2 separate regions of the Homo sapiens genome follow, and region 1 is linked to region 2. The links come from fine-mapping of genetic effects on gene expression. A gene starts in region 2. The other region holds a variant in brackets. All regions are shown on one strand. Distances are from middle to middle. Region 1 holds the start of PARP10 (poly(ADP-ribose) polymerase family member 10). Region 2 holds the start of SHARPIN (SHANK associated RH domain interactor).

Region 1 (8,311 bases), 120 kb before region 2:
GGAGGGCCTCGGTAGGGTCCACCTGTAGGGAGAGGATGTCAGGACCACTAGCCTCTGGGCAAGGGCAGAGGAGGCCTGGGGCAGAGGCGTGAGAAAGGGGAGGGCAGGGGTGGGACTCCATCTCTACCTCTTCAAGGCCTGTGTCCAACGTGGCTGTGGCCAGGCGCTCTGTCCCAAAGACACACTGGAACTGAGCCTCCAGCCCCTGGAGAAGGTGCTGCCCTTCTGGGCCCAGGAGAAACCTGGCGCTGCCCGGGTGCTCCAGGCACAACACATGGCAGCTAATGCTGCCCAGCAGGCTCCGCAGAAACTCCTCAGCCGCCTGGCAGGAAGCCTGGGCTCCACAGAGCTGCAGGGCCATTGCAGAGATGGAGTTTGCAGGTTTAGAGCACAGGAAAGGTACTTTGAGTCCCCAGTAGGAGGAGGGGGCTGAAGGTGAGGAGTCCTGAGGGGTCACTCACCCGAAAGCCAGTCATATCCGGTCCTTCAAGTGGCAAGAGAGCGACGTCTCCCAGGCCCGCAAGAAGGTCCTCATGGTAGAGCTGCAGGAAGCGCATCGCCCCTGGCTCCATCAATAGCACCATCTCCACCAGGCCCTCCTGCCCTGCCAGCTTCACACATCCTGGGCTCACAGGCCCTGCCTTCTCCAGAGACCCCATGGTGATCTCCATGGGACCCACCAGCCCCTCTTGCTCTGGTGAGTCCATGGCAATTTCCACCAGGCCCTCCTGCCCCAGCAACCCCTTAGAGGTCTCCACTGGGCCTGCAGACCCCACAGGCCCCAGGCTCATGGGCCCCTCCTGTTCCTGCAACCCCACAGGCCTCAGGCTTACCAGCCCCTCATGTTCCAGAGACCCCATGGGCATCGAGCTGACTTGCTCTGCCTGTCCCAGAGACCCCATGGGACCTGTCCTCAGAGAGGTCCCTGACTGCCCTGGTTCCTGGCCAGAGCCTGTTGTCATAATCCCTCTACCCTGCACCATGGGACCTGTCCTCAGAGAGGCCCCTGACTGCCCTGGTTCCTCGCCAGAGCCCATTGTCACAGTCCCTGCACCCTGCAGAGCCGTCACCAACCCTCCGGTCCTCAGGAGAGCATGCTTGGTAGCCCTAGGCCCCTGGGTGGACGGGTGGTCCCCTCCACTGGTGTTCTCAGCCAGCTCCTCGGGCTCCAGGATGTCGTAGTGGGGGACAAGGCTCAGCTCTGAGCCCTGCAACCGGTGCTCCTGCTGCAACACTCGTTCTGCCACTTGGAGGAAGGGAAAGGACAGAAAGCCTGTCAGATTTCTGCAGGAGAGGGACGGTCGGCTGGGTCTGCCCAGCCCCACTCACCTTGCCACTGCTGGAAGGAGGCAACAGTGCCCAGGGGCCCGGGTAGGCGTTGCAGGTCCTCCAGGGGCCCCCCACCACTGCGGCGCTCATTCTCCAGGTACAACTCCAGCAACAGCAGGTCCACAGAGGCACCATCCCCCACCACACGCACCGCTCGGGCCTGGGGAACCCGGGCCAGGGACACCAAGGTCCCCTCCAGGCCCAGATTCTGGGCCTGCTCCTCCAGGACACGGACATCTGTGGGGTATGTGCAGGTCAGCTCAGGGAATCCCCCCTAGCCAGCACCTCAACCCCAACCCTGCCTCTCACCTGCCTCAGAAAGGGGCTTGGGCAACTGGACCAGAGCCCGGTCTGGCCGGGGGCTGGCCAAGGCACAGCAAGGCTGTACTGGGAGCCCCGAGGCCCGCAGCAAGGCCTGGACATGCTGCTCCAAGCGCTGGGGCGTGGTGCCAGGGGGCAGTCCTTGGAGCAGCAGGCGTGCAGGGGCTCGTGGTGGAGCTGGCCGCAGGCTCAGCTGGGCACCATGTAGTTCGTGATCTGCCTGGGCCAAGACCCTCTCGGCGTCTGTGGGCAGGGGCGGGGCAGGATGTCAGGCATTAGAATATCAGGGCACCCAGGCTGTCCCTTCAGCCAGCCCTCTCACCTGCAGGCTCTCTGAAGGTGAGGACGCCCCCACAGCCCAGTCTCTGCCAGCTCAACACAGGTCCCCCTCCAGAGCGTCGGCGGTTTTCAAAGTAGAGAGTGAGCAGCTCGTCGGGCACGGCAGGGGGCAGTCCACGGACCTCCACTGCCACCCCTGCCTCTGCCTCCGCCATTGCAACCCTGGGACGGGGCATCAGGTGGGTAGGGAAACAGCCCATTCCACCCCTCCTGCCCCTCCCCAGGCCCCTCCAAGGTGTGTCCTCAATGCTCCCCCATTATGGGTGGCCCCACATACAGCACTTACATTCCCCGTGGCCGCTAGGCAGCCTCAGGCCATGAGCTCAGCCAGGACTCCTGTGCCTGCCCCTCAGCAAGCCTAACCCTGCTGGGAGCAGGAAAACAAAAGTGAAACTGAAAGACGGAAGGAGGGAGGGAGCAGCTGGGCCCTGGGCGCTGAGGCCTGGGTACTGGGGCTCAGATGCTTCCTCTCCTGCTGCAGCCTCAACCCCCAGCTGACCAGGAGGTATTGGCCAGGCTGGACCCCTCAGGACCCTCCAGCCAACCCAGCCCAGCCCACCGGCCCTACCTGGCCCACTCCAGCCCCTGGTTGGCAGGGTAGACAGGAGTGTCCCCTGGTGGCCCTCCACTCCCCTGGCCTCCATGGCCTGAAAATGGCCAATCACCCGCCCCACTAAACCCACCAAGGGGCCTGAGTCACTGCCCCTCACTCAGGATCTCCAAGCCTCTGTGTCCATGACACCCTCTGCACACAAAGTGCTGGGTCTCCAGGCCCGCCCCCGGCCAAGGCTGGCCTTCAACGCCCCCAGCAACCTTCTCAACCCTGCTCCTGGTCCCTCACACCTGCCAGGTGCTGAGCATGGGCGGTTCCCCACCCTTGGTCTCCAAGAATGTGCATTGCAGCACAGCCTTCCTCCCGCCTCAGGTCTTGCCTGCCCATTCCTGCAGCTTTCTGTCCTGCCTGCACCTCCCCATCTCACACCATCATTGGCATCGTCACAAGTAACCTCAGAAGGTGACAAGGTAATGGCTCCACTGCATTCCTTGCTGCCGCTAATCCTCACCACAGAAAGGGAAACGGAGGTGCAGACAGGCCCATAGCAGCACCAGGCCTCAAACCTGGGCGGTGCCTTCAGAGTCCACACTCCCACTCGCCACAGATCTCCCACATCACCCAAGCTCCGTTTGCTTCCAGCCTTTCAAAGAGCTGTGGCCACTACCACTCTCCATCTCCTACTTCCCACTCACCCCTCAGCCCACCAAAACCCAGCCCCACCCCTGCTGTTCCTCCCTCCAGGGAGCTGAGGACCCTGGCCAGCCTGCACTCCTAGCCCTGCACATGCCACACCTCTGCTGCCCCGACCCTGGTCCCAGCCTCCAGCATCTCTCGCTAGGTAGCTAGGCTAACCTCTTAACTAGTCTCTGTCTGCCACTCCCATGGTGGGTCCTCAACAGAGGTGTCAGGGTGAGCCTTGTAAAATGACACCAGCAGCTGCTACAGCTCCCAGCATCAGCAACAGTAGAAACCAAAGTCCTGGGGGCCGGGCGCAGTGGCTCATGCCTGTAATCCCAGCACTTTGGGAGACTGAGGCAGGTGGATCACGAGGTCAGGAGTTTGAGATCAGCCTGGCCAACATGGTAAAACCCTGTCTCTACTAAAAATATAAAAATTAGCCGGGCATGGTGGCAGGTGCCTATAATCTCAGCTACTCAGGAGGCTGAGTCAGGAGAATAGCTTGAACCTGGGAGGTGGAGGTTGCAGTGAGCTGAGATCGTGCCACTGCACTCCAACCAAGGTGATAGAGTGAGACTCTGTCTAAAAAAAAAACAAAAACCCAAAGTCCTTTTGAGGACCTGCCCCCTGCCCAGCTGCACCTGACCAGACCTCAGTCCCTTCTCTGGCCCCATGCCCCCTGCACACC[C/G]TGATGCTCAGAGGGCTCCAGGCTCTCAGCTCTTCCTGCAGAGCTACAGGCCACTCCTGCCTCAGTAGCCTGGGACTGGCCCTTCCCTCTGCTTGGCCCTACCTTCCCCACAAACCCCCATGGCCACCCCTCTGGCATGATCTCCCTTACTCTGCCTTTTTTTTTTTTTTTTCTGAGACGGAGTTTCGCCCTTTCACCCAGGCTGGAGTGAAGTGCCGTGATCTCGGCTCACTGCAACGTCCACCCACTGGGTTCAAGGGATTCTCCTGCCTAAGCCTCCCAAGTAGCTGGGATTACAGGCACGCACCACCATGCCCAGCTAATTTTTGTATTTTTAGCAGAGACAGGGTTTCACCCTATTGGGCAGACTGGTCTCAAACTCCTGACCTCAGATGATCCACCTGCCTCAGCCTCCCAAAGTGCTGGGATTACTGGTGCCAGCCACCATACCCAGCTATTTTATTTTTATTTACTTATTTATTTATTTTTTGAGACAGAGTCACACTCTGTTACGCAGGCTGGAGTGCGGTGGCACGATCTCAGCTCACTGTAACCTCTGCCTCCCAGGTTCAAGCCATTCTCCTGCCTCAGCCCCCCCAATAGCTGGGATTACAGGTGCACACCACCACGCCCAGCTAATTTTTTTTTGTATTTTTAGTAGAGACGGGGTTTCACCGTGTTAGCCAGGATGGTCTCCATCTCCTGACCTTGTGATCCACCCGCCTCGGCCTCCCAAAGTGCTGGGATTACAGGCGTAAGCCACCGCGCCCAGCAAGCATTTTATTTTTCTTAAAGGTCTCTCAAATTTTGTGAGCTTCTGCTTCTACAAAGGTAGAAGTTACCTTCTACAAGGGTAAATCCATCCCTGCTTTTTCCACGTTTTCTCTAATGGAACTCATCACAGGTTATCCATTACGCCGACCCTGGCTGCAGAGGGCCTGCCACAGGCACCACTCACACCACAAGCAGACTGGTACAGTTTCGGGAATTTCTGTGGACTGGTTGTCCAGCTGGGGGTAACTTGAAACCAGCCCCGGTGGAGTATTCACACCACGCGCATGTGCAAAACACGCACCCCAGGCTTCCCCTCACTAGGTCCGGCTGCTAAACACTGCGCCAGCGCACCATAGGTGCAGGACTCAGAGCGGCCTGGGAGAGGCCGGCCCTCCAAGGGCGGGAGGGCAGGTGGGGTCTGGGCCCCGGGTGGGAAGGCTGGCAGCAGGATGTACCCTGCCTGTGTCAGTCACTGCTCCCCCAAGAGGACTTGGGAGCTAAGCAGGGAGGTGGCCTGGCCTCCAGTCCTGCTGCATCCCCAAGCCTCAGCCCCTCGCAGCTTGTGAGGACGTTAGGCAGACAAGCGAGCGTTCAGGGTCTCTAGTGTGAAAACAAGACATCGTATTTGTTAGTACAAAGGGTGACTGTGGTCAAGAATAATTGTACATTTTAAAACAACTCCAAGAGTATAACTGGATTGTTTGTAACACGAAGGACAAAATGCCTGAGCTGATGGATACCCCATTTACCTTGATGTGATTATTATCCATGGCATGCCTGTATCAAAACATCCCATGTAGCCCGTAAATATACACCTACTATGTATCCACAAGAATTAAAAAAATAAAAAAGGGTCTCTAGTAGCAGGCCTGGCAGAGTTTGGGCTGACAGAGCAAATGGGGCAATTAAACCACGAGGCCTCGATTTGGGAACTAAAGGATTAGGCTTCTTGATTTGGGAGAGATCTGGATGAAAAGAAGTGAACGTCGGGTTTTAAGGCCGAGAACGGACGGTCAGTCCCGGGCAGCTTCAGCAAATCCCGCATTTAGGAATAAATTTCTTAACTACCGAACGGCCAGTCAAATTGGCCAGACCAGACTTCTGCCTCCAGGGGTCTTCAGCGCCCACCGCCCGACCCCACCCCTCGGCAGACAGTGAGAGGCGGGCCTCTGGCCGGAGCGAAGAGGAACACGCAAGGCGGCGCAGCGGGAGGGGTCCGCGGAAGCCCCGCCCACCTGCCCCTCCCACCCCGAAGCTCGCCCGGCCCCGCCCCCTGCCCCGCCCCGTCACAAGGCCCCGCTGCGTCTTCCGAGCCGCAGGCGCAGGCCCAGCTGAGCGGCCGCCGAGCGGGTGCGGGTGCGGGCGCATCGGCCATCACCGCGCGGCCGCGCAGCGGACACCGTGCGTACCGGCCTGCGGCGCCCGGCCACCGGTGAGTCCCCGGCCCGAGCCCAGGAGCGCCTCTGACCCGCTGCGCCGCGCGGCCTGCCGCCCCCGCCCCCGCCCCCACGCGGATCTTGCGCATCCGAGCGTGGCCGCCTCGGGTCAGTAAGTTGGTCCGGCCGGGGCGCGCGGCAGCTCGCGGCCAGAGGTGGCGGCGGTGGTGGGGGCGGGGAGCCGCGGCGGCCTGGAGCCGGAGGGAGGGGGCGGCGCGCTGCGGCGACTGCTGGACCCGTGACCCTGTGCGCCCCCGGCCCGCGGAGGGCCCATCCGCTCTCGGTGCCAGTGCCACGGCCGCAGCCCCTACCCGCCTCGCCCCACGCCCGCTTTGTTCCCCGCACGCCCCGTGGTCGCTTCCATCCCCCACACACCCCCGCACCCCGCTGTTCCCGGCGTACCCCACTGGCAGGCACCGGCAGCCGATCCAGGCCCGATCCCCCCACCCCGGAGCCAGGGGCCGTTGGGCCCTGTTGTTGGGCTCGCGGGGGTGGGGGGGCTCGGGCCTTTGTTGGTCACAGATGGCCCGGGGATTTCCTGGGATAGAAATAGCCGCCGGCTCCGGCCCCTTAAAGCTGCTTAAGGGGCGGGATGCGGAGGGGAGGGTCCGGGCACACCCCACACGTCCCCGGCCGAGACCCCAGCCTCCGCGCTGAGCTCCCACCCGGGAGACGCCGGCAGCGGCGCAGGCCTCCGGTTGCTTGTGAGAAACGACCCAAGCCCCAAATCCCGAGGCTGGCGGTCGTCCCCTCGCCCGGCCCCTCCCCCACCCTAAAGGCGGCCTAGAGCCCTGGGAAGGCCCCACGGCGCCGCCCGTCCGGTCCTCACGCGCTTCTCCGGGCCCAGGCTCCGGGGCTCCCCACAGCCCGGGGCAAAGGTCACGGTCTTCCCTTGCTTCCCCCTGGGTTCCCAGAAGCAGGTGGAGTTGCGCAGGGCTGGGTCCCGACGCTGTCGTCAAGCCAACTGTTCCACTGTTCCTTGTCTGTCTTCTCTAGGGGCGGACCGCGGAACCCGAGGCCATGTCCCATGAAAAGAGTTTTTTGGTGTCTGGGGACAACTATCCTCCCCCCAACCCTGGATATCCGGGGGGGCCCCAGCCACCCATGCCCCCCTATGCTCAGCCTCCCTACCCTGGGGCCCCTTACCCACAGCCCCCTTTCCAGCCCTCCCCCTACGGTCAGCCAGGGTACCCCCATGGCCCCAGCCCCTACCCCCAAGGGGGCTACCCACAGGGTCCCTACCCCCAAGGGGGCTACCCACAGGGCCCCTACCCACAAGAGGGCTACCCACAGGGCCCCTACCCCCAAGGGGGCTACCCCCAGGGGCCATATCCCCAGAGCCCCTTCCCCCCCAACCCCTATGGACAGCCACAGGTCTTCCCAGGACAAGACCCTGACTGTGAGTCTCAGGAAGGGAGGGGTGGGGTGGCCGGGAGGGCAGGGGGAGGTGCTTGTGAGTGGCGCTGACCCAGCCTGTCTGCTTCTCAGCACCCCAGCATGGAAACTACCAGGAGGAGGGTCCCCCATCCTACTATGACAACCAGGACTTCCCTGCCACCAACTGGGATGACAAGAGCATCCGACAGGCCTTCATCCGCAAGGTGGGTAGGGGCATCTCCAAGGCGGTGGGGGCTGTGGCTCCCAGCGGATGACTCTGAGCGGCTCCTTCCCCAGGTGTTCCTAGTGCTGACCTTGCAGCTGTCGGTGACCCTGTCCACGGTGTCTGTGTTCACTTTTGTTGCGGAGGTGAAGGGCTTTGTCCGGGAGAATGTCTGGACCTACTATGTCTCCTATGCTGTCTTCTTCATCTCTCTCATCGTCCTCAGCTGTTGTGGGGACTTCCGGCGAAAGCACCCCTGGAACCTTGTTGCACTGGTAACCCCCAAACCTGAGCCTCTGTGCCTGGGTCCGGCCATGCAGTCCCACACGCCCACTCTTCCGGGCCTGGTCACCGTGGTTCTCCTTGTGCTCATGAGGCAGGGGCCGGCAGGGGTGGCATGGGGGCACACACCCAAGGTCAGCCTGTGTCTCCCAACTGCAGTCGGTCCTGACCGCCAGCCTGTCGTACATGGTGGGGATGATCGCCAGCTTCTACAACACCGAGGCAGTCATCATGGCCGTGGGCATCACCACAGCCGTCTGCTTCACCGTCGTCATCTTCTCCATGCAGGTGAGGGGCCTCCCGTGGCT
Region 2 (8,290 bases):
CGCCCTGTGAGGCCCAGCCCACTGCAATGGGGGGGTCCCCATCCAGTGCTGACACAGCTCCCGTGGTCTCAGGCCCACTATATTCTACCATCTCCCTACTAGGATAAGCAGGGCCTTCCACGCACCCAGCGCTGTTCCTGGCCCCGGCCCCGGCCCCGGCCCCCACTGAACCTCAAGGATCACTTATACATGCTCACCTCAGGGTTTGTTTGCTGCTTCCTTGGTCACATGGTTCATGCCATGACCTTCAAATTTCACTCCAGTGTCACCTCAATGAGGCCTTCCCTGCCACCACTTTTTTTTTTTTTTGAGACGGAGTTTCACTCGTTGCCCAGGCTGGAGTGCAGTGGTGTGATCTCGGCTCACCGCAACCTCCGCCTCCTGGGTTCAGGCGATTCTCCTGCCTCAGCCTCCTGAGTAGCTGGGATCACAGGCATGCACCACCACGCCCGGCTAATTTTGTATTTTTAGTAGAGACGGGATTTCTCCATGTTGGTCAGACTGGTCTTGAACTCCCGACCTCAGGTGATCTGCCCACCTCGGCCTCCCAAAGTGCTGGGATGATAGGCGTGAGCCACCGCGCCCGGCCCCTGCCACCGTTTTAAACAGCAATCCTCCCAGCTCCACCATTCTCATTCCCACACCATCTAACAGACTTTCTTTTTTAAAAAACTCTACAGTAATTTTATTATTTTTGTTTTTTTTTTTGGAGACAGGATCTCGCTCTGTCACCCAGGCTGGAGTGCAGTGGCACGATCACAGCTCACTGCAGCCTAGAACCCCTGGGCTCAAGTGATCCTCCCATCTCAACCTCCCGAATAGCTGGGATTACAGGCAGACACGACTACACTCAGCTAATTTTTTTTTTTTTTTTTTTTTGTGAGATGGAGTCTCGCTCTGTTGCCCAGGCTGGAGTGCAGTGGTGCAATCTCGGCTCACTGCAAGCTCCACCTCCTGGGTTCACGCCCTTCTCCTGCCTCAGCCTCCCGAGTAGCTGGGACTATAGGTCCCCACCACCACACCCAGCTAATTTTTTTTTTTTTTTTTTTTTTTTAGTAGTCAGGGTTTCACCGTGTTAGCCAGGATGGTCTCGATCTCTTAACCTCATGATCTGCCCACATCGGCCTCCCAAAGTGCTGTGATTACAGGTGTGAGCCACCGTGCCCGGCCCACTCAGCTAATTTTTAAATTTTTTGTATGTTGCCCAGCCCTGTACTTATTTTATATGTCTGCCTCCTCCCCTCTAAAAATGCAAGCTCCAATAGGATGGGGATGGGAGGTTTTGTTCATGCCAAAGGAGTACCTGGGACAGGGCAGCTGCTGAATACATATGCTTGGTGAATGACTAAAGAGAGCTTAGCTCCTTTTATAAACCCTGAGTTGCTTGAGTCTCTCTTACATCACTGTCTGGCTGTCTTCCTACCCCTCTGGCAGCTCTGCTTATCTCGTTTGTGGGCTGCCCTCTATCTGGGAGCCCCATACTACCTAGTCCTTCATGTTTCTCAGTCTCAACTGCTAACTCTTCCATTTAAGCAGCCATGTGAGCCAGGGGCAGTGGCTCATGCCAATAACAGCTACTTAGGCTGAAGCAGGAGGATCACCGTAGACCAGGAGTTCAAGGCTCCAGTGAGTTAGGGTCACGCTACTGCACTCCAGTCTGGGTGAGAGAGGGAGTCTTTGTCTGCAAAAAACCTCCCAAGCAGCCATGAAACTCAGCTAATTCCATCTTCTTTTTTTTTTTTTTTTGAGATGGAGTCTTGCTCTGTCACCCAGGCTGGAGTGCAGTGGCAAGATCTCAGCTCACTGCAACCTCTGCCTCCGGGTTCAAGTGATTCTCCTGCCTCAGCCTCCCCAAGTAGCTGGGACTACAGGCACACGCCACCACGCCTGGCTAATTTTTGTATTTTTAGTAGAGACAGGGTTTCACCTTGCTGACCAGGCTGGTCTCAAACTCCTGACATCAGGTGATCACCCACCTCGGCCTCCCAAAGTGCTGGAATTACAGGCGTGAGCCACCCCACCCGGCCACTAATTCCATCTTCTAAGCATCTCTAGAAACATCCTTCTCCCCAACCCTATCTGCACCAACCCTTGCCACTGCAGAACTCTGTCTTAAGCAGGAGGTATCTGAGTCTGTCACTCTCCCACTCCTGTCACTCTCCTGCTGCTCTTGGGATGATGTCTTCTCACACAGGTCCTGACCCTGCCTGCTCTGCCTCTTCATGCTTGCCTCTCATCCTTCCTGAGGGTTAAGGAAGTGCAGGCTGAGGTTCCAGGGCTTCCTGGTGGAGGCTGCAACTTGTGCTGGCTGGGGCCTCAGATGGTGTAGGAGACTGACTCCAGCAGCCACTCCAAGTACTCCAAGCTACTCCAGGCTCCACCTACTCCCTCCTGGAAGCCTTCCCAGACATCCAGCAGTGGGGAAGGTGGATCCAACTTCCCCAACCAGGACTGGGGGGCCAAGGCTATTCCAAATTGTAATTGTATCCATTACAGGGCACTGACCATTCTGTCCTTCCACGGTGGCACCTCGGACTAGGACTGCCCACCGCTGAGCTTCCTGAGGGTTGAGGAAGTGCAGGCTGAGGGTTCCAGGCCCTCCTGGTGGAGGCTGTAGCTCGTGCTGGGTGGGGCCTCGGATGGTGTAGGAAACTGACTCCAGGGGCCACTCCAAATTAACCTGAGAAGAGGGAGAGTCCAGGCTCAGGGCGTCCCCCCGCCCTACATCGCACGAGGAGCAAAGAAATACAAGGTAACATTTATAGACCATTTACACGGTCCTAAGCCCTGTACGCCTATCATCAAATCCTCACAATAGCCCTGTAAAGTAGGTCCAGGTAGGTCCCAGTAGGTCCGAGCGTCACCCCCATTTCACGGACGAGAAAACAGAAGCAAAGAAACATAACTGCTTAAGGGCACCCAGGTGGCAAGCGGAGGGGCCTAACTTTGGGCTCCGTGCCCTGCCCGGGCCAAGAGGACTGACCGCGCGCCCTCCGCCCCCACTCACCGCCCCAGGTCCCGCGCCCAGCAGCTCCAGCCGGAAGCGCCCAGGCCGCTCAGGGTCCGCGCTCAGCTGCAGCCTCCGCAGCTGTGCCTCGGCGTCTGGCCCGGCGCCCAGCGGCCTCACCGCGGCGTGCACAGCCAAGAGCACTGCGGCGGAGCCCAAGTCCGAGGCCGCCGCCGCCGCCCCGCCCGCTGGCGGCGCCATCTCCGGTCCGGCCGGGTCCCACCCCTCCGAGCGCGCTTCCGTGGGATCGGGCCGCTGAGCCCCCTCCGCCGGTCGGAAACACGGGCCGCGAACCTGGGGTTCCGGGCGCGCCCAGAGCGTCGGGCCTGGGACGGCGCCGAGTGGTGCACTCTGGCCAAGCCTGCCCCGCTGGCTTTGCCCACAAATGGACACGGCCCGAGGGTCTCCGGACACCGGCTGGGCGAGGCTGGCGGCGTGTACGAGGCTGGGGCAGGGCGGCCGAGGCGCTCACGTTAGAGCTGGTCTTTGGGGGCGAAGGGTCAGGGGGCGAAGCACCGGCCACAACTGAAGGCGGACGCGGCCTCTTCGCCCCAGGGGCTCGGCGGACGTAGATGCATCCAGCGTGCGACTATCCCAGCGCCTAACGGCAGCTGGACTTCGCTCCCGGGACCTCCAATGGGCTGCCACCTTCGCCCGCAGACCCCAGCCCCCGCCACGCCCACACGTCGCACTAGGTTGGCCCGCGCCTCACTGGTTACGGGGTCGACCCCCCTAGGGGGCGGAGCTAGAGAGGCCACGGCCAATGAACGCCGGGGGTAAGCGGGTTAGTACGACGAGAAGAGTGACAGACAGGCTCCATAACCAGTAGACGTAGAAGGCAGAACTGAGTGGCGGGTACGGCACCCGATGGCTATTCGAGCTCTCGATCTCGGAGACTGGAGCGGGCCATTCAGAGGCGCGGGGCCGGGCCCGGCGGACGCTTGTTGTTGTCCGGCCGGGGGAGGCGGAGGTCGCTCGCTCGCTCGCTCGGCTCGCTGACTCGCCGGAGCGCTCTGTGGCGGTCGGCGGCAGGTCGGTCGCGAGAGCGGGCTCTGTGGAAGGGGGCGAGGCTATGTCGCGGTGGCAGCCCGGATGGGCCGGCAGGGCCGGGAGTAACGGGACGTCGCCGCGGAGCTTCTTCCCCCGGATACAGTGCGGCCCGAGCGGAGGCCGCGGCGCCGCCCTCCGATCTTGAAGAGCCCGCGCTGCGCGGAGCCCGCCCCCGCCTGCGCACCGGCACCGACGCGGAGCGACCCAGCCCAGCCAGACCCGGCCCGGCGCGGCCTGATCTAACCCAGCCAGGCAGGTGGGTGTCCGCCCTGCGTCCCGCGCCGTCTGCGTACCCGGAACCACAGCCCCCAGCAGGCCTCGCGCGGCGCGCTGCCTCCTGGGATTTGTAGTTCCACCGCGGCTTGGCTGGTGCCCGACGTGGCCCAGGCGGGCGCTGCCTGGTGACTGCAGCGCCCCAGCGGGGCCGAGGGACCGCCCTCCTAGGCGTCTGGAGAAACTAGGCAATTTTTCCGGGTAGAGTGGAGGAACCTGTAGTTTTCCTCTCCCCGGGCCAGAAAGTAGCCAAAACGAAAGAGCGCCCGCCCAGGTGACCGCAGGGCCCGGAGTCCCAGGTGTCCTGGTTCCTAACCGGGATGCAGCCTCTTACCTTGGCTGAGGAGCCCAGCCAGCCTGAGGGAGACTGCAGGAGTCACGTCCCGTTGCGGACTCAAGAGTTACCCCCATGGTGGCTGGAGCTCTTTTGGAGTGGGCGTGGAGATGGGGAATGGGAATGTTGAGCAACAATCTCAGCCAGCAGCCCCAGGGTGAGCAGGGTCCCCGGTGGTCTAGTCTAGTCCCAGAACTCGCGTGTTCTGCAGGGGGTATGGCTGACCTGGAGCCTGGACTTACCACCCTCAGGTAAAACAGGATCTCTGTCACCTCTCCTGGCCGGGCAGAGAGGGGAGCTCCTGATGTGCAGCCTGGACAGAGGCCAGACTCAGCTTGTTCCTAGCGGCTCCACTTAGTGGGTAGGAGGGCTGAAGGCAGGGCCCCAAGGGGCCAGATAGATACCCATGGTCTGGTCTCTCACTCCCCAGGCAATACTAGCCCCTCTGGAGCACGGAGCTCCTTCCCCAAAGACATGAAGCTATTGGAGAACTCGAGCTTTGAAGCCATCAACTCACAGCTGACTGTGGAGACTGGAGATGCCCACATCATTGGCAGGTGAGGCAGGCTGGGGGGGCTGGCATCTCGGAGGTCACACTGCCGCGCCCTTCAGTGGAACCTGGGGGAAGCATGCTTCATGGTTCTCTCTGCATCCTATAGGATTGAGAGCTACTCATGTAAGATGGCAGGAGACGACAAACACATGTTCAAGCAGTTCTGCCAGGAGGGCCAGCCCCACGTGCTGGAGGCACTTTCTCCACCCCAGACTTCAGGACTGAGCCCCAGCAGGTGAGCCATGGTGGGGCCTACCTGGGGCTGGGGGTTGAGGGGAGGTGATGGGCCCAGCTGATGGTTCTGTCTGTGCAGACTCAGCAAAAGCCAAGGCGGTGAGGAGGAGGGCCCCCTCAGTGACAAGTGCAGCCGCAAGACCCTCTTCTACCTGATTGCCACGCTCAATGAGTCCTTCAGGCCTGACTATGACTTCAGCACAGCCCGCAGCCATGAGTTCAGCCGGGAGCCCAGCCTTAGCTGGGTGAGGGTCAGGTGGAGGGAAGGGACCCACAGCCACCCCACTGTCCTTCCCCACTTTGGGTAGCCCTGGGCTCCTGTCACCCTGACTGTGACCTGCCCTAGGTGGTGAATGCAGTCAACTGCAGTCTGTTCTCAGCTGTGCGGGAGGACTTCAAGGATCTGAAACCACAGCTGTGGAACGCGGTGGACGAGGAGATCTGCCTGGCTGAATGTGACATCTACAGGTGGGCCGGCATCCCTGCAGATGGCCTCCAGGCCTCCAGGTTTGTGGGGCACTTGGCGCCTCACACCACCTGTCACCCTATACTCCCCAGCTATAACCCAGACTTGGACTCAGATCCCTTCGGGGAGGATGGTAGCCTCTGGTCCTTCAACTACTTCTTCTACAACAAGCGGCTCAAGCGAATCGTCTTCTTTAGCTGCCGTTCCATCAGGTGGGCACCCCCCGCCTCCTCCCCCACCTCCCTGTTGGGCCGATACAACTTCCCCAGCTGTGCCATCTCCACCCAGCTTTGCCCTCCCTGAACATCCTCCCTGGGGCCAGCAGCAGGCCTGGGTAGGGGTCCTGAAACTGGTTTCCCTGCCTCCCCTCAGTGGCTCCACCTACACACCCTCAGAGGCAGGCAACGAGCTGGACATGGAGCTGGGGGAGGAGGAGGTGGAGGAAGAAAGCAGAAGCGGGGGCAGTGGGGCCGAGGAGACCAGCACCATGGAGGAGGACAGGTGTGTGATGGGGGCCATGACCCGGGTCCTTGAAGCCTGGAGTGGGTACAACAGGGTGGGGGCCTCCTCTACTTGGTCTAAGTGGTGGCTCCTGAAGGCCCACTGTGTGCCAACCTCCGCCCAGGGTCCCAGTGATCTGTATTTGATGAGGAGGAGCCGAGGCCCCAGCTTCATCCAGCTTCAACCAATGCCTGGACCTGTCCACCTGAGAGGCCCCTGGGGCCTCCCCAGCTGCTGGCCAGACCCTGGCGCTGCCACAGTCCTGGCACTGCCCAAGGCCATACCTGCCTAGCCCTTTGGCTCCATCCTGTGGATGCCCACTCACCCCTCAGACTCCTGCTGCCCATGCTGTGGCCGGACTTGTCAGCAGGGGGCCTGGTGGGAGGAGCGACTGCCCTGCCCAAATGAACTGCCACAGCAGGGACAGCTGGACCGCAGAGTTTATTTTTGTATTTCTACTGGGCCTGCACACTCCAGCCCAAAGGGTCTGTGGCCGGAGGCCCCACGAGCAGGCCCCAGCAGTCACCGGCTCTGGTCTTGGGCCGGCCCCGGTGCCCACCTGTACCCCCACCTCGCCCATTTGGCCGCGTGCACTGAGTGTCACTTTGCTGCAGCTCGTTTCTTTCCAATAAAAGTTTCTGTGACTTAGTGTGGACCTGATGCGGTGTGGGGGTGGGGCCTGCGGTGTGGGAGTGGCCGGCGGCATCTGGTATCCTAGCAACTGCCGCTGCGGGCCGTGACCGCTAAGTCCTGGGAGCTGTTGGGCTCTGGGACCGCAGTTGCTGAAATGGAGGCAGAGGTGTGGGAGGCAGAAGGCTACAACCTAGTTCTGGACTCGGACCTGTATGATGCGGATGGCTATGATGTCCCAGACCCTGGGCTGCTCACCGAAAAGAATGGTGAGGGGGCCTGGCCTCGCCCTCCGGGCATCCCGCTAGGAAGTGGGTCTCATTCGGGCTTGGGTTCCGTCCCCTGGAACAAAACTCCCCTGGGCAGTCCCTGGTAGGGCAGGGCCCCTGGAGGAGGGCTCCCCATAACCGTCAGGGTCGAGGACCTGAGGCTGTAGGTGGCAGAACTTCCAGTTCCTGCCCGCAGAGTTGACTTTCACGGAGCCGTCGCAGGTCCTGCCCTTTTTGACCAGCAGCCAACAGTGGCAAAGCCTGACCCCGCGCGCCCGCGCCCGCCGGCTGTGGCTGCTTCTGCGCACCAGCCTCCACGAAGTCGTGGAAAAGGTGCGGTGTGCCTGTCCTGCGCCTCCTGGCCTCTTTCCGGATCTGGGCCTTCCCTTAGGGGTCCCCTAGGCCGGAGTAGCCCCAACCTTTGATTGCGGGCCCGCCCACCCCGGCCCACAGGAGAAGAGAGCCGAGCTGCGCGCGGCGCGCCTGACGCATGGGCTGGAACCACTGCGCCGCCTGGAGGTGGCAGCCGGGCTGCGCTCGGTGGCGCAGGACCCGGTGGGTGGACGCTTCGTGGTGCTGGACGGCGCGGGCCGCCTGCACCTGCACAAGGAAGACGGCTGGGCACAGGAGACGCTGCTGGCGCCTGTCCGGCTTACGGGGCTGGTGACCGTGCTGGGCCCGCTGGGTGCCGTGGGCCGTTTTGTAGGCTGGGGCCCCGCGGGGCTGGCAATTCTGAGGCCCAACCTCAGCCTGCTGTGGCTGAGCGAGCAGGGGGTGGGCAGGGCCCCGGGTTGGGCGCCCACCTGCTGCCTGCCGGTTCCCGACCTCAGGCTGCTGCTCGTTGCGGAGATGAACAGCAGCCTGGCGCTCTGGCAGTTCCGTTCAGGTGGTCGCCGCCTGGTGCTGCGAGGGTCAGCACTGCACCCGCCCCCGAGCCCAACAGGCAGGCTCATGCGTCTGGCTGTGGCGCCGG

The links.
Region 1: its variant is fine-mapped to the expression of SHARPIN in whole blood (INTERVAL, PIP 0.96).

The regions. Positions count from the first base shown.
Region 1 is chr8:143,984,083-143,992,393 of GRCh38, forward strand. PARP10 (poly(ADP-ribose) polymerase family member 10) reads right to left here and starts at 2,378. Exons shown (of 11, transcript NM_032789.5): 1 at 2,276-2,378; 2 at 1,973-2,151; 3 at 1,639-1,893; 4 at 1,330-1,566; 5 at 462-1,246; 6 at 128-349; 7 at 1-22. The coding sequence starts at 2,277. GRINA (glutamate ionotropic receptor NMDA type subunit associated protein 1) reads left to right here and starts at 5,974. Exons shown (of 7, transcript NM_001009184.2): 1 at 5,974-6,117; 2 at 7,118-7,520; 3 at 7,610-7,722; 4 at 7,796-7,996; 5 at 8,163-8,291. The coding sequence starts at 7,142. RefSeq lists enhancers at 2,041-2,480, 2,151-3,054, 7,719-8,220 and silencers at 5,906-6,405, 6,426-6,565, 6,696-6,955, 6,879-7,173, 7,006-7,055. The variant C/G (reference allele first, on the strand shown) is at 3,912.
Region 2 is chr8:144,100,546-144,108,835 of GRCh38, forward strand. SHARPIN (SHANK associated RH domain interactor) reads right to left here and starts at 3,228. Exons shown (of 9, transcript NM_030974.4): 1 at 3,008-3,228; 2 at 2,506-2,680. The coding sequence starts at 3,208. MAF1 (MAF1 negative regulator of RNA polymerase III) reads left to right here and starts at 3,916. Exons shown (of 8, transcript NM_032272.5): 1 at 3,916-4,313; 2 at 5,095-5,221; 3 at 5,324-5,452; 4 at 5,531-5,696; 5 at 5,798-5,919; 6 at 6,010-6,129; 7 at 6,290-6,418; 8 at 6,543-7,066. The coding sequence starts at 5,139. The coding sequence ends at 6,564. WDR97 (WD repeat domain 97) reads left to right here and starts at 7,194. Exons shown (of 24, transcript NM_001316309.2): 1 at 7,194-7,317; 2 at 7,514-7,650; 3 at 7,771-8,290. The coding sequence starts at 7,206. RefSeq lists silencers at 2,970-3,069, 3,080-3,359, 4,120-4,359 and enhancers at 3,420-3,469, 4,221-4,515, 8,137-8,290.